Regions from separate parts of the Homo sapiens genome. Here region 2 is linked to region 1. A link means that fine-mapping ties the variant in region 1 to the expression of a gene that starts in the linked region. Tissue or cell type: whole blood. Region 1 holds a variant in brackets; the other region holds the start of a gene. All regions are shown on one strand. Distances are from middle to middle.

Region 1 (11,009 bases):
GGCAGGCAGATCACCTGAGGTCAGGAGTTTGAGACCAGTCTGGCCAACATGGCAAAACTCTGTCTCTACTAAAAATACAGAAATTAGCCAGGTGTGGTGGTGCACGCCTGTAATCCCAAATATTCAGGAGGCTGAGGCACAAGAATTGTTTGAACCCAGCCAGGAGGCAAGGGTTGCAGTGAGCCGAGATCTCTCCACTGCACTCCAGCCTGAGCAACAGAGTGAGACTCCGTCTCAAAAACAAAACAAAACAAAACAAAACAAAAATACCCAAAACATATAATACACTCAAACAGCTCAAAAACTAGATGTTCCCCTTCCTTGGCCTCCCTTGGCCTCCCTTGGCCTCCCTCCTATGCTCAGTGGTGTCCAAAGTCCAGAGGGGTCCGAGGCAGCAGGGGGCTGGCGTGTCAGCATGTCCCTGAGCATGCGCACACCTGGCTGGGTCATGACAGTCCCTGGGCTTGGCCATAACTTTGCTCTGAAATCGGAGTGGGCACCAGGAGTGGGGAGAGGTCAGGCAGTAGGAGCAGGCATGGCACTTCTGAGCCTGCAGGGGTTGGGGGGCCTCCCAGGTCCCAAGTGTGCAGACATGCCCGGGTCTGCAGCCATGACTGGGTGTCTGCAGCTGCCTGGGAGGGTGGGGCTCCTGCCCCTCCAACCTGAGGCTCCCATCTGTTCCCAGCTCCTGCCAGCTCCAGGGAGCACACAGCCATGGCTGCGCCTCCCCCACTGCAGCCAGCATCATGGCAGCAGCTGCTCCAGATGGGCCACTGGTGCCATCACTGTCTCTAAAAAAGGGGGAAAAAATAAGCCTGGGATCTGAATGGACATCTCTCAAAAGAGGACATACAAATGGCCAACAGATATATGGAAAAATGCTCAACATTTCTAATCATTAGGAAAATGCAAATTTAAACCACAATGATATATCATCACACACCTGTCAGGATGGCTGTGATAAAAAAGATGTAAGATAAATGTTGGCGAGGATGTGGAGAAAAAGAAACCCTTAAAGTTGTTGATGGGAATGTAAATTATGGAAAAATATATGGAGATTCCTCACAAAACTAAAAATAGAATTACCATATGATCCAGCAATCCCACTTCTGAGTATTTACCCAAAAGTGAAATTTGAAATGTCTGCCCTCCTATGTTCATTGCAATACTGTTCACAATAGCCAAAGTCATAAAATTAACCTAAGTGGCCATCAGTGGATGAATATATAAAGAAAATGTAGTATATATACACAATACAGTACTATTCAGCCTTAAAAAAGGAGAAAATTCTGACATTTGTGACAACATGGATGAAATTGGGGAACATTATGCTGCTGAGTAAGCCAGGCACAGAAAGAAAAATGCACATGTTCTCACTTATATGTGGAATCTGAAACAAGTGAATTCATTGATATAGTTTGGATATTTGTCTCCACCCAAATCTCATGTTGAATTATAATCCCCAGTGCTGGAGATGGGGTCTGGTGGAAGGTGTTTAGATCATGGGGGCAGATCCCTCATTACTTGGTGTTGTCTTCGTGATAGTGAGTTCTCGTGAGATCTGGTCATTTAAACAGGTATGCCCCACTGCCAATTCCCTCTCTCTCCCTTGTTCTTGGTTTTGCCATGTGACATGCCTGCCCCTCCTTCACCTTTTGCCATGATTGTAAGCTTCCTGAGGCCTCCCTAGAAGCTAAGCAGATGCCAGCCCCGTGTTTCCTGTAAAGCCGGCAGAACCATGAGCTAATTAAACCTCTTTTCTCTATAAATTACCCAGTCTCAGGTATTTATAGCAATGTGAGAACAGCCTAATACATTCTTAGAAGCAGAGAGTAGAATGGTGGTTACAGAGGCTAGGGGATGAGGAGAATGGAGAGATGATGGTTGAAGGGTACAAAATCTTAGACAAGAGGAATAAGTTTCATTTCCAAGATCTGTTGCACAGCATGGTGAATACAGTTGTTAATTATGTATTGTACACTTCAAAATTGCTGAGAGAGGCTGAGTGCAGGGGCTCACGCCTGTAATCCTAGCACTGTGGGAAGCTGAGGCAGGTGGCTCACCTGAGGTCAGGAGCTTGAGGCCAACCTGGCCAACATAGTGAAATTTTGTCTTTACTAAAAATACAAAAACTAGCCAGGCATGGTGGCAGGCACCTGTAATCCCAGCTACTTGGGAGGCTGAGGCAGGAAAATCACTTGAACCCAGGAGGCAGAGGTTGGAGTGAGCCAAGATCGTGCCACTGCACTCCAGCCTGGGTGACAGAGCAAGACTCTGTCTCAAAGAAAAAAAAAAAAATTGCTAAAAGAGTAGATTTCAAATGTTCTTACCACAAAAAAAAAGGTAAGTATTTGAAGTGATGGATATATGTTAATTAGCTAGGTTTAATTATTCCATATTATAGTCATAAATCCTAACATTAATTTGAACCCCATAAACATATATAATTAGCCAGGCATGGTGGCTCACGCCTGTAATCCCAGCACTTTGGGAGGCTGGGGTGGGCGGATCACTTGAGGTCAGGAGTTTGAGACTAGCCTGGCCAACATGGTGAAACCCTGTCTCTACTAAAAATACAGAAATTAGTTGGGGGTGGTGGCTGGTGCCTGTAATCCCAGCTACTCAGGAGGCTGAGGCAGGAGAATTGCTTGAACCCAGGAGGCTGAGATTGCAGTGAGCTGAGATCGTGCCACTGCACTCCAGCCTGGGCAATAGAGCAACTATATATATATGTGTGTGTGTGTGTGTGTGTGTGTGTGCATGTGTGTATATATATTATATATAATATATGTATATATATAATTATAAATTGTATATTTACAATAAGTTTACAATTTACAATAAAGCTTTAAAAGAACAACAAAAAATTAAATATACCTCTATTGCTTGTACGTTTTTCTACTTTTGATAGAAACATGGACATATTAAATATTTCACTTTTAACTCTAGTATAAGAAAGTCAATAATGCAAGAGTGATGATAAAGAGCAACTCTCACTTGGCATCATGATCAGGGAGCAATAGGGAGTGGGTGACTGCGGTGACCTAAAGCATACAAGCCTTGTCTAAAGTGAACAGCTGCTCTCAGCCCTAGCTCATAAGTGCCACAGAGTCTACAGGCCTAGACCTGCTGATCCCCAGCATTTGCAAGAGACTCTTGGTAACCAGGATTTTAAAGTAACATTTCCTGGTTAAGGGTAGCGGCCGGGCGTGGTGGCTCACACCTATAATCTCAGCACTTTGGGAGGCCGAGGTGGGCAGATAACTTGAGGTCAAGAGTTTGAGATCAGCCTGGCCAACATGGTGAAACCCTGTCTCTACTAAAAATACAAAAATTAGCCAGGCATGGTGGTGCACACCTGTATTCCCAGCTGCTTGGGAGGCTGAGGCATGAGAATCGCTTGAGCCCTGGAGGTGGAGGTTGTGGTGAGCCGAGATTGTGCCACTGCACTCCAGCCTGGGTGACAGAGCGAGACTCCATCTAAAAAAAAAAAAAAAAAAAGGTTGGCAACTAGCACAAAATTCTTCAAAATCTCATGGGCTAAACAGGCCAAGCAATTGACCTTAGTAGATGGAGGGTCTGAGCTTATCAGAACAGATGGGTGCCCAATGAAGACAGAGGGCTGACGACACAGAGAGGCAGCTGCCCACGTAGGATACGTAGCATTCTCAGCTCTGCAGGGAAACCAGGTAGGGCTCTGGCTAAATTCAACCTCAGAAAAATGAAGTCCTTTTTTTAATGTCACAGAAAATACTTGACTTGGCAACATAATATGGAACATCAGTATTTGAAACACAGAGAGAAGGCTGGGTACAGTGGCTCACGCCCATAATCCCAGCAATTTGGGAGGCTAGGGTGAGAGGATCGCTTGAGCCCAGGAGTCTGAGATCAGCCTGGGCAACATAGTGAGACACTGTCTCTAAAAAAATTTTAAAAATAAAAAAACTAGCTTGTTATGATGGTGTGCACCTGTAGTCCCAGCTACTGAGGAGGCTGAGGGAAGAGGATCACTTGAGCCTGGAGTTTGAGGCTGCAGTGAGCCATGATCATGCCACTGCACTCCAGCCTGGGTAACAGAGAAAGACCCTGTCTCAAAAAATAAAAAATAGACTAGGCACAGTGTCTCACGCCTGTAATCCCAGCATTTTGGGAGGACGAGGTGGGCGGTTGGCTTGAGCCCAGGATTTCAAGATCGGACAGGGCAACGTAGCGAAACCCTGTCACTACACAAAATTTTAAAAATTAGCTGGGCATGGTTGTACACATTTGTAGTCCCAGCTACTTGAGAGGCTGAGGCAGGAGGATCACTTGTGCCTGGGAGTTCGTGGCTGCTGTGAGCTGTG[AT/T]TGCACCACTGCATTCCCACCTGGGTGACAGAGTGAGACCCTGTTTCAAAAAAGTAATAATAATTTGAAAATGAAAATTTTAAAAAACACAAAGAGAAAATAAAAGGAAGACTAAAATAAAATAGCAGCAGCAAAAGTGGAAACTTTTGTACAAGAGAAAGTAAATCTGAGTCCGAGCAGGCCCGTGCTTCTAGATAGAGCATTAACTGAAGGACGGTGATACTGGCCTGGTAAGGAGCACCAAGAGCTTCAAGATTAGCCCAGCACAGACGCCCCAGACCTGAGGCTTTGGCTTCACAGACTTGTATATAGGAAGGAATTGTCATTAAATGAGCCCCAAACATCTTTGTGGTATATATGGTAATTTAACCTGTTCTGTCTATTAAGTTTACTTGTATGTACCGTGAACATGTTGGGTAAGCCTGTAACAGTTTGTCCATCATGTTGCTTAGTTCTTCTCATCTAATTCGTTTGTACGTCCCGAAAGAACTCCATTCAGCATTGAAGCAGAAACATCCAAACCCTTGTGAATGCAAACATTCACAATGTTGGGGCTATGATGGACACCTCCAGCTATTCGCTGCAGACTGGTTTGAGGATCAGAGGTGTCCCTTTGAGTTCTACCCCTGAGGTCAGTGGAGTCAATAGAGAGAGAGGAGTAAGGTAGTTTGAGATGTTAAGTCCACATAATCTGGCTTCTGGTCTCACCACTGCACCGATACCGTTTCCAATAAGGTCACTCGACCCCAACCCAGGGAAGCCCACCAGGCATCTCTCAGCCCTCTGTTTCCATCTGACCTTTCAGCAGCATCTGTCAACACTGACCACTTCCTCCTCCCATGATGCCCCCATGGCGCCTGCTCTGCTGTCTTCTCTCTCATCTTAAGGGGCTTTCTTCCCTTTCCCCTTTCGTGTTTCCTCCTCATCAACCACACATCTGGGTGGGAGGGTTCTTTAGACAGCTTTCTCATCTCACTCTCGCTCCTTCGGGGCAATCTCCTCTCTCTGTCTATGGCTTCGCTTACACACATGCGGACTCCCTGGCTTTTATCTTCAGCTCAGACTCTGGCTGACATAACAACTCCACTTTGGTGTCTCAGATCCCCACCAATTCAATGAGACAAAGCTAGTGACTTCTTTCTCCCAGTCTTACTCCCCCTCTCTGTGATGGCATCACCATCTGCCCCAGTGTGTAAACCTTTGTGTCATTTTTGACAGTTCCAGTGTGTAAACCTTTGTGTCATTTTTGACACTTCCTTCTCCCCTGTCCCTCACCTCCAGCCGATCACCACATCCGGACTATTCTGATAACAAAATACATCTCAAGACAATGCTTCTCACCGACTACCCTGCCTCTGCTCTGCTCCAAGTCACCACAATGTCAGCTATCAACAGCCACTTCATCCATTTTGCGTCCTCCAAGCCATTCTATATCCTGTTGCTGTAGTGAGCTTTTAAGAGCCCCATGGTATCATATCACGTCTTGCTGAAATCCTTCCAGTGGCTTCCCATTGCACTAGGATAGAGTGAATTGCTTAGCGTGGCCTGCAAGGCCCTGTAGGATCTGCCTTCTGACTGGCTGGCCTTGATTCCACGAGCTTCACCCACCAGCCACACTGTCTTTCAGTTGCTGAAGTGACCCAAGTTCTCTCCTGACTCAGGGCCAGTCACTGCCTGGAAAGCTGCCATCTTTGCCTTTACCACCACCCCTGCCCTTGGTTTGGTCAGACCTTTACCCTCTAGACTCGGCTCAAGGTCACTTCCTCAGGGCCAGTTTCTCTGAGACAGCCTAATTTCATAGATTATTTTTGGCACTTCTTTGTTTAATGCCTGAGTCCTCTGTCTCTTTCACCAATACCTGATGCAGAGTAGGTGCTTATATTAGTCAGGGTTCTCTAGAGGGACAGAACCAATAGGATAGATGTATATATGAAGGGGAGCTTATTAGGAGAATTGGCTCACATGATCACAAGATGAAGTCCCACAACAGGCCGTCTGCAAGCTGAGTCCCAAAACCTCAAAAGTAGGGAAGCCATCAGTGTAGCCTTCTGTCTGTGGCTGAAGGCCGGAGAGCCCGTGGCAAACCACTGTGTAAGTCCAAGAGTCCAAAAGCTGAAGAACTTGGAGTCTAATGTTCGAGGGCAGGAAGCATCCAGCACGGGAGAAAGATGAAGGCCGGAAGACTCAGCAAATCAAGTGCCTGCATTATTCTAGCTGTGCTGGCAGCTGATTAGATGGTGCCCGTCCAGATTGAGGGTGGGTCTGTCTCTCCTAGTCCTCTGACTCAAATGTTAATCTCCTTTGGCAACACCCTCACAGACACAGCCAGAAACAGTACTTTGCATCCTTCAATCCAATCAAGTTGGCACTCAGTATTAACTATCACAGGGCTCTAGGGATATTTGTTGAATATATGAACACAGCTAGACGGGGACTGGCTTCATAAGGGTGCTATGCCAGACCACATATCTGCTGCTCTGGAGTATTTTCGGGTCACCTGGAATCCTGGCAACCCAGTGAAAGTTAATAATTTATTTTAAAATATTGATAATTTAATATTTATAACCCCTCATTAGGATTTAGTATTAATGATCATCTTTCTATATTAAAATTATTCTAAAAACAGGTTGAGAGATAAGTTATCAGCTATTTGCAATTATTTGAAGATCATCTCATGGAGGAAGATGGGAGAGACAAGTTACACCTTCCTGTGTTGCCAGAGGCACTGTAAGCCCTCAAAGGAAGCAATTTGGCAATATATATCACAAGCCTTAAATTGTCTATAGGCTCCTTAAAGCTGGCCATAATATGGTAAAAATACTGTCATACTCCTGGCCAAGGGGTAAATATTCACAATCCTTTTGGAAAGCAATTTGACTCTATCTAGTTAGAGCCACATTTCTGGGGCTCTAGATGGTGCCCAGTTAACTTCAGGTCATTCTCAGTTAATGAATCATTAACTTAATGGCCACTTCCTCAAAGAGATTTTCCCTGAACCACACCTCACCCTCAAACCAGGTACACTTTACCTCATTTTTATAACATTTATCATAGCTATAATTACTTCTCCAACATCTGTCTCCTTTCCTAGGTTCTAAGCTCCAGGCCGGTAGGGGCAGTACTTGCTTTATTTGTCTCTATATCCTTAGGGCTAACACAGTGCCATATGCACCTTAAGATATATAAATAATTGTTGAATAAAATGAATAGAGAAAAATCATTCTAAATAAAAATAGATTTAACCCAAAGGTAACAATATCAATAATTAACCTTTACAGAGAGGTTAATATTTACCTGACCCTGTTGTATGTGCCTGTGTGTAATTGGCAGTACAGCCCTTGCGCTTCTTACTCTTACAGATGGAAAACTGAGGCCTACAGAACTTACCTAATTTGGTCCAAGTGAGGCAACCAGCTAATAAGTTGCTTATCAAAATCTTATTTATAATAGCAAAAAATTGGAAAGAACCTACATGTTATTTGAATATTTAATACATGCAGTTATCAGAACCTCAGTTTTGTTTCCTTTTTTAAAATAAATTTATTTATTTATTTAGAGACAGAGTTTTGCTCTGTTGCCCTGGCTGGAGTGCAGTGGCACAATCTGGGCTCACTGCAACCTCTGCCTCCTGGGTTCAAGTGATTCTCATGCCTCAGTCTCCCGAGTAGCTGGGATTACAGGTGCGTGCCGCCACGCCCAGCTAATTTTTGTAGTTTTAGTAGAGACAGAGTTTCACAATGTTGCCCAGGCTGGTCTTGAACTCCTAAACTCAGGCATCCGCCTGCCTTGGCCTCCCAAAGTGCTGGGATTACAGGCATGAGTCACCACGCCCAGCTAAGAACTTTGGTTTTCAAAAGATGTATAGTAACGTAGCAAGGTGGGTGCAATATAACAGTTACTGGTCCCATTCAGACAAATGGATATGGCTGTGACAGTGTCCTTTACTGGCACAGTGCTACTCCTTGCTTGGGTGCCCAGATCATAGCTCTTGCGGTACATACCAGCTGTGTCAGGGTGGAGCAGAGGAAGCTGAATAGAGAAAGTAACATCTGGAGGTGGGGCATGCTTTAGAGACAGGAAACTGAACACATCCTGAAATGAAAGGGAGTGTGAGCCTTCTAGGAAGTGAGAGAAATTCAGTGGGTCCAGAAGGAAGTTATAAGTGTTGGGGCTGGAGAGGTAAGCAGAGGCCAAATGGAGAGGACCTTTGGGCCTTGTCCTGGGGCAGCAGTGTCCTGCTGTGATCACTGCACGTTTGGACGTGGCAAGTGGGAGGCACCAGGCTTGGCATCCAGAGAAGGTCGGGGGATTTGTTTGGGTAGAATTGATGCATTTCTACTTTTGTTAGAAGAGCCAGCTGGAGACATGAGGACTAAATATGGAATGTGGAAAATGGAAAGAGAATTCTAAGATTCAAAGTCTTGGCCTCAATGTCACATCCTGTCAAGGGAGCAAATAGTGTGAAAATGAAAGTAAAGCCTAAGGATGATTATTTTTCAGTCTGAAAGAAAACTTCTGCTTTCTGCGAATTCTATCATAAAGTTAGTATTTAGCCCCTTTTAACCTGGTTGTTTACTCTCTGGTTGAGACATCTTAGTCAATCCAATTCAGAGGTTTAAGACAGTAGTCAGTTCTATCCTACTATGTTTGGAGAATGTTAGTTCAGGCTAAGGGTTTTCAGGTATGATAACAAATGTGGCATTTTATAGCTTGGAGTGCCCTCAGTTCTAAGATCCAAACGTGTCTGGAATTGGTGGGTTCTTGGTCTCACTGACTTCAAGAATGAAGCCACAGACTCTCGCGGTGAGTGTTACACTTCTTAAAGGCGGCGTGTCCGGAGTTTGTTCCTTCTGATGTTCGGATGTGTTGAGTTTCTTCCTTCTGGTGGGTTTGTGGTCTCCCTGGCTCAAGAGTGAAGCTGCAGACCTTCGCAGTGAGTGTTACAGCTCTTAAGGCAGTGTGTTTGGAGTTGTTCTTTCCTCCCAGTGGGTTCGTGGTCTCCCTGGCTTCAAGAGTGAAGCTGCAGCCCTTTGCCATAAGTGTTACAGCAGTGCGGACCCAAAGCGTGAGCAGCAGCAAGATTTATTGCAAAGAGTGAAAGAACAAAGCTTCCACAGTGTGAATGGTGCCCAGGGTAGGTTGCCACTGCTGGGTCGGGCAGCCTGCTTTTATTCTCTTATCTGGCCCTACCCACATCCTGCTGATTGGTCCATTTTACAGAGAGCCAATTGGTCTGTTTTACAGAGAGGTGATTGGTCCGTTTTGACAGGGTGCTGATTGGTGCATTTACAATCCCTGAGCTAGACACAAAAGTTCTCCACGTCCCCACTAGATTAGCCAGATACAGAGTGTGGACACAAATGTTCTCTAAGTCCTAACCAGAGTAGCTAGATACAGAGTGTCGATTGGTGCATTCACAAACCCTGAGCTAGACACAGGGTGCTGATTGGTGTATTTACAATCCCTTAGCTACACATAAAGGTTCTCCAAGTCCCCACCAGAGTAACTAGTTACAGAGTGCCAGTTGGTGCATTCACAAACCCTGAGCTAGACCCAGGGTGCTGATTGGTGTGTTTACAAACCTTGAACAAGATACAGAGTGCCGATTGGTGTATTTACAATCCCTTAGCTAGACATAAAGGTTCTCCAAGTCCCCACCAGACTCAGGAGCCCAGCTGGCCTCACCCAGTGGATCCCACACCAGGCCACAGGTGGAGCTGCCTGCCAGTCCCATGCCGTGCGCCCGCACTCCTCAGTCCTTGGGTGGTCGATGGGACCGGGTGCTGCGGAGCAGGGGGCGGTTCTGATCGTGGAGGCTCGGCCGCGCAGGAGCCCACGGTGGGGGTGGGGGGGTGGGGAGGGGAGGCTCAGGCATGGCAGGCTGCAGGTCCTGAGCCCTGCCCTGCAGGGAGGCACCTAAGGCCCGGCCAGAAGTCGAGCACAGCAGCTGCTGGCCCAGGTGCTAAGCCCCTCACTGCCCGGGGCTTGTGGGCCAGGGGGCCGCTAGAGTGCCGGGCCCCCCAAGCCCATGCCCACCCGGAACTCGCCGGTTCCCGCCTGCGCCTCTCCCTCCACACCTCCCTGCAAGCTGAGGGAGCCGGCTCCGGCCTTGGCCTGCCCAGAAAGGGGCTCCCACAGTGCAGCGGCGGGCTGAAGGGCTCCTCAAGTGCCGCCAAAGTGGGAGCCCAGATAGAGAAGGCGCCGAGAGCGAGCGAGGACTGCCAGGGCTGCCAGCATGCTGTCACCTCTCACAAAGGTGATTAATGGGCTGCTCTGTTTCAATGATGGTGGTGCGTCCTCCAAAATTCATGTTGAAACTTCACCCCCAGTGCAACTGTATTAAGAGGTGTGGCCGCTGGGAGGCAGAGCCCTCATGAATGGGATTAGCACCCGTATAAAGAGCTCAAGGTTGAGGGGGGTGCTCTCTTGCCCTTCTGCCTTTTGCCATGTGAGGACACAGCAACAAGGTGCCATTTTGGAAGCAGAGAGCATGCCTCCGCAGACACCAGTGCCAGCACCTTGATCTTGGATTTCCCAGCATGCGGAACTGTAAGAAAAAAAGTTCTGTTCTTTATAAATTACCCAGTCTCAGGTATTTTGTTATAGCAGCACAAATGGACTAATAAGACATGAGCTTTAGAAATATCTTGAATTTTTTATACTTG
Region 2 (11,009 bases), 30 kb before region 1:
TTTAAAAGGACTAGCTCATCATATATAAAGTACAATAAAGGCCAGGCACAGTGGCTCGCGCCTGTAATCTGAGCACTATGGAAAGCTGAGGCGGGTGGACCACTTGAAGTCAGGAGTTTGAGACCAGCTTTGCCAACATGGTGAAACCCCATCTCTACTAAAAATATAAAAATTAGCCAGGCATGGTGGTGTAGGCCTGTAATCCCAGCTACTCTAGGAGGCAGAGGTTGCAGTGAGCCAATATTGCACCACTGCACTCCAGCCAGGGTGACAGAGACTCCATCTCAAAATAAATAAATTAATTAATTAAAAAGTACAATAAATATTTAAAAGGAAAAAATACATACAGAATAACTAAGGTTAATTAGAGAATGAAGACATTTTACTTTACTATTGGCTGAGCCTATATATAAAATCAGAAATGATAGGCTCCTTTTAAAATTGATTTTCCCATATATTTACATTGATTCAGCAGTCTTTTTTTTTTTTTTTTTTTTTTTGAGATGGAGTCTTGTTCTGTCACCCAGGCTGGAGTACAGTGGCACAGTCTTGGCTCACTGCAACCTCTGCCACCTGGGTTGCAGTGATTCTCCTCCCTCAGCCTCCCGCGTAGCTGGGACTACAGGCATGCACCACCATGCCTAGCTAATTTTGTATTTTTAATACAGACGGGGTTTCACCATGTTGGCCAGGCTGGTCTCGAACTCCTGACCTCATGTGATCTGCCCGCCTCGGCCTCGCAAAGTGCTGGGATTACAGGCATGAACCACCATGCCCAGCTGATTCAGCATTCTTTTCTATCTCCAGGTAAAGGGAAAGTTATTTGCATGCCTGGCTTTGTAACATTCTAGCAGTGATTGGTCAAGAAGAATGCGGCTGACAGCTGACACCTGGCTTCTCTTCAGGATGTTGTGAATTCGGATTGGACCAGCAGGTCTGCCCTGCTGTTAGCTCTCTAGGGCATCCAAGGACAGAGGATCATTCTCAAGGCATTCTTAGTTGTTCTAACTCCATTCACCACTACAAGAGCATGGGCTTTGGAAACAGGCAGAGTTGGGCCTGAAACCTGTGTTCAGCCCTTGATAGCAGGGTGGCTTTGTCTCTACTGATCAATCTCTCAGAGCCTCAGCTTCTTCTTTCATAAAACAGGCCAGTTAATAATCCCAGTCAGTTAACAAATCCATGTAAGATTGTCATAAAGATCAGAGATAATGTGGATACTGAGCCTGAAATGCGTCCCTAAATGATAGTTATTAGCTTTTGTCTGTATGGACTCTGGAATCAATTTCTTTCCCAATTCCACTTAAAACAGAGACAATAAATTCAAGTATTTCCTCAAGCTGCTGTAGAGTGTCATTTTAAAATGACATTGACTCAACTCCCCTTTCCTTACAACATAATTGGAAAAAAAAAAAAAAAAGCTGGCTGGGCACGGTGGCTCATGCCTGTAATCCCAGCACTTTGGGAGGCTGAGGCGGGCGGATCACGAGGTCAGGAGTTCGAGACCAGCCTGGCCAACACAGTGAAACCCCATCTCTACTAAAAATACAAAAAAGTAGCCAGGTGTGGTGGCGGGTGCCTGCAGTCCCAGCTACTCGGGAGGCTGAGGCAGGAGAATGGCTTGAACCTGGGATGCAGAGTTTGCAGTCAGCCGAGATCGCACCATTGCACTCCAGCCTGGGCAACAAAGCGAGACTCCATCTCAAAAAAAAAGAAAAAAGGCTTCAAGCATTGGCCCTGGGTTCTGCACTCAGATGAGGCTTCAGTGTTCTGCCCAATCTCATGGAAGTTCATTCTCCTGGTGCTGGAGCTGCACACACATGAAGTTGCTGAGCTACCATGAGAAGGGAGCATATAGACAAGATGAGTCTTCCCGGTAGCCTAAAAAAAAGGAGGAAGGTGCTACACTGTGCATCATTTTAAGTGCTCTGCGCCAGCTCTCAATGTCCTACACATTAACTCAATAATCCTGACAACCACCACAATGCATTAGGTAGTATTAGCAAAATGGTTAGGAGAAAAGATTCTGGAGTCAAACCACCTGCATTCCAATACTGACTTCACACTTCACTAGCTGGGTGTCCTTAGGCTAGCTACTTATCCTCTCCAACTCAATGAGAGTCATCTGAAAGCTCAGGATGATATTTAATGCCTATCTCCTGGGGTTATTGTGAGGCTCATGGGTCAAATATTCATAGCATAATGCCTGCCACAAAGTAAGCACTCATTAAATAATGTTGTTATATAGGCAATAGTAATTATCTTGCACAAGATCAAACACCAGTAAGTAGGTAGAAATCCTGGTCTTCTGACTCCAAATTCCAGGCTTTTTCTGTGACCATATGTTACCCTACTGAATGTTTATTTTTCCTTAAATGATTAAAATACCATAGTACGGTTTGTGCTGTTCTAAGAACACTGAAGTATTCTCGCTAATTATACAAACTGCAAAGAAAAGATCACTATTAGCAGAATATAATGCTGTTTCACTTTGCACTGGCTTGAGAAAAAGCCCCCACATAACAGACCATTTCTGAGATTCCCAAGAGCTATACTTTCCAGGAGTTATATACTTCTTTGATACCAAAACCAGTGTCGCACCTGCCAAGGGAAAGGACTGTCAGTTTGACTAGTCTAGAGGCCACGTTACCTTCTCTCTTTTGTGCTAAGTGGTGACAGCCGACTGTTCATCTCCCTTTTAAAGTTGTTCTCTAATATTTTATTTCAAATTCCTCCAAACAAAACAACTTGCAGCTGCAAGTCATGCTAGCTTTCTGGTTCACTGCCTACTTGGGCATAAATAACCAGTACACTGGCTCCTACTTTAACTACCACTAGGCCTGGCACAGTTCCAGGCTCTTTGGGTACTGACGTTGTGGAGTCCATAAAGTTAATTTTCCAGACAAACTTGATTTAACCTGGTATGAACTTCAGACGATGCAGCTCTGGGGAAATTCACACTGACTTTCTCACTTCATTTCAAAATATTTTTTTTAATTGTCAAAAAGAAACATTCATGAACATAGACCATATTCTTTCTGGGTCATAAAACAAAATAAAACATTTCAAAGAATTTAAGTCATATAAACTGAGTTCTCTGAAAATAATGGAATTAAACTAGAAATCAATAACAGATATCTTTAAAAATCACCAAATAGTTGGAAATTAACACACTACAAAAATAACCCATGAGTCAAAAAGGAAGTCACAAGGAAAATATTTTTGGGCCAGGCATGGTGGCTCACATCTATAATCCCAGCACTTTGGGAGCCAATGCGGGAGCATCATTTGAGGTCAGGAGTTCAAGACCAGCCTGGCCAACATGATGAAACCCTGTCTGTACTAAAAATACAAAAATTAGCTGGGCATGATGGTGCATGCCTGTAGTTCCAGCTACTTGGGAGGCTGAGGTGGGAGAATCGCTTGAACCTGGGAGGCGGAGGTTGCAGTGAGCCGAGATCACACTATTGCACTCTAGCCTGGGTGACAGAGTGAGACTCCATCTCAAAAAAAAAAAAAAAAAAAAAAATATTTTGAACTGAATGAAAATGATGATACAACATATTAAGATTTCTGTGATGTATTTAAAGTGGTGCTTACAGGAAAAATTATGGCATTAAATGCTTATATTAGAAGGCGGGGTGCAGTGGCTCATGCCTGTAATCCCAGCACTTTGGGAGGTTGAGGCAGGCAGATTATCTGAGCTCAGTAGTTGGAGACCAGCCTAGGCAATATGGTGAAACCCTGTCTCTACAAAAAACACAAAAATTAGCCAGGCGTGGTGGCACACCTACTTTGGAGGCTGAGGCAAGAGGATCGCCTGAGCCTGGGAGGCAGAGGTTGCAGTGAGCCAAGATCACACCACTGCACTCCAGCCTGGATGACAGAGCAAGACTGTCTCAAAAAAAAAAACAAAAAAAATTCTTCCAAACATTTAAGGAATTAATAATACCAATTTAATGTAAACATCTCTAGAAAATAAAAGGGAAGATAAACACTTCCCAACTCATTTTCTGAGATCAGCATTATCCTGATGCCAAAATTAGCAGATATTACAAGAAAACTATACATCAATATCTCTCAAAACATGAATGTAAAAATTTCCAATAAAATATTACTAATCAAATCCAGCAATACATTAAAATGATAAAATCATAAATAAGTTGGGTTTATCCCAGGAACAAAAGGTTGGTTCAACATCTAAAAATCAATATAATTCACCGTATCAACAGACTACATAAAAACAATTAGGTGGTGCACACCTATAATTCTAGCTACTCAGGCCTGGCAGAAGTGGGAGGATTGCTTAGGCCCAGGAGTTCAAGGGTACAGTGAGCAGTGATAACACTACTGCACTCCAGCCTGGGTGACAGAGCGAGACTCCCTCTCAATTAAAAAAAAAAAAGAAAAGAAAGGAAAAGGAAATGATCACCTCTAGATGAAGAAATGCATTTGATAAAATTCAACATCCATTCATAATTTTAAAAAGCAAACAAAAACACTAAGCAAACTAGGAATGAAAGTGAACTTTCTCAACCTCCTATTAATAAAAGGCTTCTGTGTTAGATACATATGGTTGCATAACAAATTACCCCAAAACATAATAGCAAACATATTTCAGTTTCTAGAGGTCAGGAACCCAAGTATGGCTTAGCTGGGTGCCCCTGGCTCAAGGTCTCTCACAAGATTGAACTTACATTGTCATCTGGGGCTACAATCTCATCTGAAAGCTCACTGGAGTTGGGGTGGTGGGGGAGATCCTCTATCCTCAAAAGGCTACATACGGTCTGATTCCATTTTCATGACATTCTGGAAAAGGCAAAACTATAGAGACAGAAAACAGATCAATGGTTGCCATTTGCAAACAATTTCTGTTCACAGACCACCTCTAGGCCATCCTTGTACTGGGTTTCCAGGGCAGCCACCAGCCCTCTCTCCTCAGCTCCAGGCTCCTTTCTGAACCCTTCCTGGGTTTACATTTAGTAGCATGCTGCTTGACACGGGATTGGCCCCTGTTTCATAGACACTGTGTTAATTTTCTCTCCTCGGGTACTGCTTCCAGGACAAGTACCCGCATTGATGCTGGCACTGGGAACGGGACGGATGATAAAGTGTGAGGCACTCTGCCCAGTGGCAACTGACATGATTTCATAATTTCCCCAGGTCCATCCGCTTCCCGCCAGTGTGCTCAGATTTGAGCAGTAGGAGTCCGTTGGGAGAAAGATGGGGGAAAGGAACCAAAAACAATTAAGGCAGACTCTGTAAGCTTCCACCTCCCACACCAGAAAAGTCCCACAGCAGAAGACTGCCGTGGAACCTTCCCTACTGTAGAGGAAAGTGCTGACTTTAAGCAATTTCTGCAGTCACGCCTTCCTCTTCTTTCCTTTCTCCCTCTCATTCATTCACTGACGCCGCAGCACTGATCAGCACAGACACAGAAGATGCCTCCAAGGGACCAAAGGGAATAACCGCGGTTCTGAGGTGTGGGGACTGCTGTTGCAGGGAAATGTGGACCGCTCAGGAGGGGCTCCTAGCGCAGGCGTCTTGCTCCGCAGACGCGGTTACAGCTGCGCTTTGCACGGCCTGCGGAAGTTTGCAAATCTAGCAGGTCTGCTCTCCCGGCAGCAGGACTCGGCCCGCGGTCAGGACAGCTCCCATGGACGGAGGGCGGCCCTCCGAGGCCTTTCCCTGCAGCCGGGAGGGCGGCCGGGCTGGGCCGGGCCGGGGGTGGGAAGCTGGGGCGCGGCGGCCCCGCCCAGGCAGACCCGGGGCGGGAGCCGGTTCCCATAGGGATCGCGGGCCGAGCCACGCCGAGCCGAGCTGGGCGGAAGAAGGCGAGGCGGGAGCCAGGCCCGTCCCTGACCGCCGCGGCGCCGTGAGTCCCGGGCGGGCAAGGAGGCGCGGGCCGTCCCTGGCCAACACGTGGCACCGCTCCATGCTGCGCGGCGCGGCTGAGGTGCACGTCCGGGCGCGGGAGGGTTTTCCCAGTCCCGGGGGCGTGGGGCGCGGGGCGCGGGTTGGTCTCCTGCGGCCAAGCCTCGCCGCCGCCTCCGCGGGGAGCCGGGAGGTGTCTTCTTGCCGCAGGGAAATGAGACCCGAAATTAGAACCGGGGAAGCCCTTAGCCCTCCCCGTACTCCAGCCAGCTCAGGTGTCTTAGATCGGATGAACGATAACGTTAAAAAGATAGCTTATCTTACAGCTCGGCTCGTTTTAGGATGGCAAGTTACATTTTAACTTACAGGGTATTTAACGGGCGATTAAAATCGGGTTACTGGAGGCAGCTAACTCTAGGCTGTTACTCCTGATCGCGTTGCCATTGCCGACACGGGTACACTCTTCATTCCTTAACATGTGCTGTTCTGTTCTAGGACCGTGACAAACACTCATCGTTGGGTGGGGCTCTAGTGCAGTCCGTTGGTGCCAATATTTTATAAGCGACGTTTTCAAACTATGTGAAGATCCTTTCTTTTCTTTTCTTTCTTTCTTTTTTTTTTTTTTTTTTTTTTTTTTTTGAGACGGAATCTCGCTCTGTCGCCCGGGCTGGAGTGCAGTGGCGCGATCTCGGCTCACTGCAACCTGCGCCTCCCAGGTTCACGCGATTCTCCTGCCTCAGTCTCCTGAGTTGCTGGGACTACGGGCGCCCATCACCACACCCGGCTAATTTTTTGTATCTTTAGTAGAGACGGAGTTTCAGTATGTTGGCCAGACTGGTCTCGAACTCCTGACCTCAGGTGATCTGCCCGCCTCAGCCTCCCAAAGTGCTGGGATTACAGGCGTGAGCCACCATTCTCGGCTGAAGATCCATTTTAAGAAGATTTATTCCTCTATGATGGAGAAGTATGAAAAAATTGGGAAAATTGGAGAAGGATCCTATGGAGTTGTTTTCAAATGTAGAAACAGGGACACGGGTCAGATTGTGGCCATCAAGAAGTTTCTGGAATCAGAAGATGACCCTGTCATAAAGAAAATTGCCCTTCGGGAAATCCGAATGCTCAAGGTAATTGATTCACTTTTCCTTTTTTTTCTTTTTCGAGACAGGGTTTCACTCTGTCTCCCAGGCTGGAGTGCAGCCATGTGATCATAGCTCACAGCAGCCTGGAACTCCTGGGCTCAAGCCATGCTTCTGCCTCAGCCTCCTGAGTAGCTGGGATTACAGGTTCTAGCCACTGCTCCGGGATCCACTTTTTCTTTAAAGTGAATTTTTAGGGATGAAAGAAATAAAGTGAGTCATGTTATGTTAAAAGAATGTCATGGGACATGGTTATATCTTACTTCATAGCCTTTTGACTTCAGTGACACAAATGGGATATCTGTGCACAAGTCACTAATTATATAATGAACTAGAAAGCAGAGACAAAAGTGCCAGGTAAGGTGGCATTCACTTTTAGAGATGCTGTGGGATATTTATTTTTCTTCCCCATAATTTCTCTCCCACCTGTAGACCTGGGTTTTCAAGGACCATTACAATTTGATAGTATAGGAATGTAAGACAATTCAATTTTGCTGGCATTGTTGATTTTTAAACTTCTAAGGTATTTCCTATTGGTATACTCAGTCTATTAAGAGAATTAACATTTACCTGTTTTCAAACTGCTAGGAAGCTCACAGATTCTCATTACACCTCATATGTATTTACTGCTGAGCATCATCATGTCCCGTTTCTAAAAAGAAGCGTTTTTCTTAAAGAAGTGAAATGATCACTTTCTAATTTTTTTTAACATTTTTTAGAGATGGGATCTTGCTATGTTGGCCAGGCTGGTCTCGAGTTCCTGGCCTTAAGTGATCCTTCCACCTTGGCCTCCTAAAGTGGTGGGATTACAGGCATGATCCATCGAGCCTGGCCTGATCACTTTTCAAATGTTTATTAGTTAACCCTAAAAATAACATGATATCAGAGGGGGGAAAGGTATTTATTACAAGCTGAAAGTGTGTTTTTCGCTAATGGAGAGACTACTTTACAGAACTTCTGTGAAGGTAAAATCCAAATCGCAATGTGAAAGGTGACATGTAATGAATATGGTGGAGGTCAACTTTGTTTCAGTTATGGCCTCTCTGTTCTGACCTGTATAACTACTATGTGACAAGGGAAGAGCTACTTGATGAGAGACAGATGAATGAAACTTCCAGGGGATTTACTATTATTCTTGCTTCTCCATTTTCTCCAGATCACTCTACAAATCTTGTGCCCATGGATAAGTGTGTGGGGTCACTTCTAGATAAGGAACCTAAATGGAAAGTAGCAAGCTTTGGATAAATTGGAATGGGTGGGTAACAGGGCAACTTCTCTATTTAGGTTTGGAATGTTCTTAACCAACAGGATATTATCTATTGAGAGGAGATGCTTCCAAAGCCCCGCAGGGGAGTGCTCCCATGGGCAGGGGTGAGACCTGCAGTGTTTTGACCATCCCCCTGCCCGGGTCACCCTACCCTTACCCTCTCTGTACACAGGGAGAGGCTGTTGGGCATTTTCACTTCCTCAGGCTTTCCCAGGGGAGGAGGTGATCATTACATTTCAAAGGGTTCATTTACCTGAAAGAAAATCTGTTTCTTGCAGAAAGATACTCTTTTTCTGATTCTGAAGATTACTTTTGTGAATGCTCCTTTCAAATCTCTCACTACACTTTATCAATACTACATTAACAGTGATAGCTCCCCAAATTCATTGAGTTCTTCTGGGATGGAGACCTTGCCTCTGTAGCTCTATATCCCCAAAGCACACTAGTTGGCACATCTAGGCCTCCAAAAAATGTCATTGTTGGATTGGAAAAAAAAGTTAACAAAATAAACTCTTAACAAAGGTGGATGTTGCCAATAAATGGGGAAGTCAAATGTGTTCTCTTATCTGAATATTGATATCCTCCAAAGGATGGGGTTGTGTACACATGAGCCTGATTTCAAAGCATGCAGCACCCCACTCTCCAAATTAAGTGCACAGATGTAGACACCACTGATCTCTATGAAATGGTGGGACTAGATTATAGGTAGAGTCTGTTCTTTAAAGCTGTAACTTTTCAGAGTTGTGTGATATTCCTAACACATAATACGTACTAGGCTGGGCATGGTGGTGCGTGCCTGTGGTCCTAGCTACTAAGGAAAGAGGCCAAGGCAAGAGGATGGCTTAAGCCCAGCAGTTCAAGGCTATGGTGAGCTATGATTAGGCCACTGTATTCTATCTAGCCTGGGTGACAGTGAGACCCTGTCACTTATAAAATAAAGATACTTAATAAATATTTGTTGAGTAGGTGAATTGAGGGTATGGTAAATGAACATTTTATTTTCTCCATTTATGGATTCAGTAAATACTCATAGAGCCCCAGTTGTGCCTAAAACGATGTTTATGCAAAGTTGTACACCCTGTCTTTCAGAAGCTCAGCTCTTGGAAGGGAGGTAAGTTGAATTGCCCTTTGGCTCTCACCCCTTATAGACTGGGTTCCCAGTGAGCAGGGCATGTGTACCCTTGCCTGGTAAGAACTCTTTAGGTGCTTGTTGAATGGTGAAAATAAAGTGATTGGAGGCATGTTTGAGCTGAACTTTGAAATGTTTAGGGAAACGTGGAATGAGAGATAAGGCATTTCAGGCAGACACTCTATCCTAGGAAAAGGTGCATAAGTAGAAAGCACCCTATATTGAGGGAACACAGGTAATAACCCAGTGTCTTAGCCAAGATGCCCAGTGGGTGCTAACAGGCCAGGGAGAGAAGGAAGGGGGAAGCCAGGGTCCGGCAGGATCAAGTCATATTCTAGATTTCTTCTGAAAGAAGAGCACATAGGAATCTAATGATTGGATGAGAAATCAAGAACAATTTCAAGGTTTTTGACTGATTGACTGGAAGAATGAGGAGATTGTTCACTGTGATAGAGAGACCCAGGTGCAAATGTGGGGGAAAGGAGATGAAGAGCTCTGTTTTGGACAGGTTAAGTTTGAGTTGTGAACCCAAGGAGACTTGTAAAGTAGGCAGTTGACTACACAAGTCTGGCATTCAGGGGAAGTCCAGGTTGGAGACAGAGTTGGGGGACATAAGCATATCGATGGTATTTAAAGCTGTGGGACCGGAGGAGGTCACCATGTGGGATGGAGGGACAGGTACTAAAGGTGGAAGCTTGGTGTACCCAGCCTTTGGGGGTCAGGAAGATGAAAAGGAACCGGCAAGGGAGGCAAGAAGAGGCGATCTGCATGGTAGGAAACCCCATAGAACAATGTTCTTTCATTATTATTATTATTATTATTATTATTATTATTATTATTTCTTTTTTGGAGACAGTCTCACTCTGCTACCCAGGCTGGAGTGCAGTGGCACAATCTCAGCTCACTGCAACCTCCGCCTCCCAGGTTCAAGAGATTCTCCTGCCTCAGCCTCCCAAGTAGCTGGGATGAGAGGTGCCTGCCACTACACCTGGCCACTTTTTGTATTTTTAGTAGAGAGAGGGTTTCACCATGTTGGTCAGGCTGGTCTCAAACTCCTGACCTCAAATGACCCGCCCACCTTGGCCTCCCAAAGTGCTAGGATTATGGGCGTGAGCCCCCGCTCCTGGCCATAGTGTTCTTAAAAGCTTAGTGAAGAAGATTGTTCAAAAGTGAGGGGATGCTCTGTGTCTCCATTAGTAGATTTAGGATTAGCCATTGGCTTTGATCATGTGAGGGTCTTTGGCGACCTTGACAAGAGCTGTGTGAGTGGAGAGGCAGGAATGAAACCTTCATCAGCAAGGGATTAAGAGAGACGAGAGGAACAAAGTGGAGATAATGATATGGGCAACTGTTTTGAAGAGTTTTATTACAAAAGGAAGACAAAAATGGGGCAGAGGTGTTCGTAAAGATGTGGGCTGAAGACAGGTTTTTTTTGTGGTTGTTTTTATTATACGAGTGAGAAGTACATTTGTATGCTAATGGTGTAAATAAATCCAGTAGAGAAAAAACTTGATGTTGGAGGAGGGAGAGAATTGCTGGACCCGTGACCTTGAGTTACTGCCCTGAACCATACCAAACATAAATATCATTGCATAAAAAAAGA

What was found. PIP is the estimated chance that this variant, and not a neighbour inherited with it, causes the effect.
Region 2: it holds the start of CDKL1, and the variant in region 1 is fine-mapped to the expression of CDKL1 in whole blood (INTERVAL, PIP 0.98).

What each region holds. Positions count from the first base shown.
Region 1 is chr14:50,361,359-50,372,367 of GRCh38, reverse strand. All of the region lies in intron 2 of CDKL1 (cyclin dependent kinase like 1), which reads left to right. Among named protein-coding and RNA genes, the nearest start is that of CDKL1, 30 kb to the left of the region's middle. RefSeq lists enhancers at 64-563, 564-1,065, 8,859-8,908, 9,049-9,458 and a silencer at 6,379-6,544. The variant AT/T (reference allele first, on the strand shown) is at 4,344.
Region 2 is chr14:50,391,690-50,402,698 of GRCh38, reverse strand. CDKL1 (cyclin dependent kinase like 1) reads left to right here and starts at 5,818. Exons shown (of 10, transcript NM_004196.7): 1 at 5,818-5,875; 2 at 6,370-6,998. The coding sequence starts at 6,831. RefSeq lists silencers at 5,500-5,725, 5,665-6,114 and an enhancer at 5,407-5,906.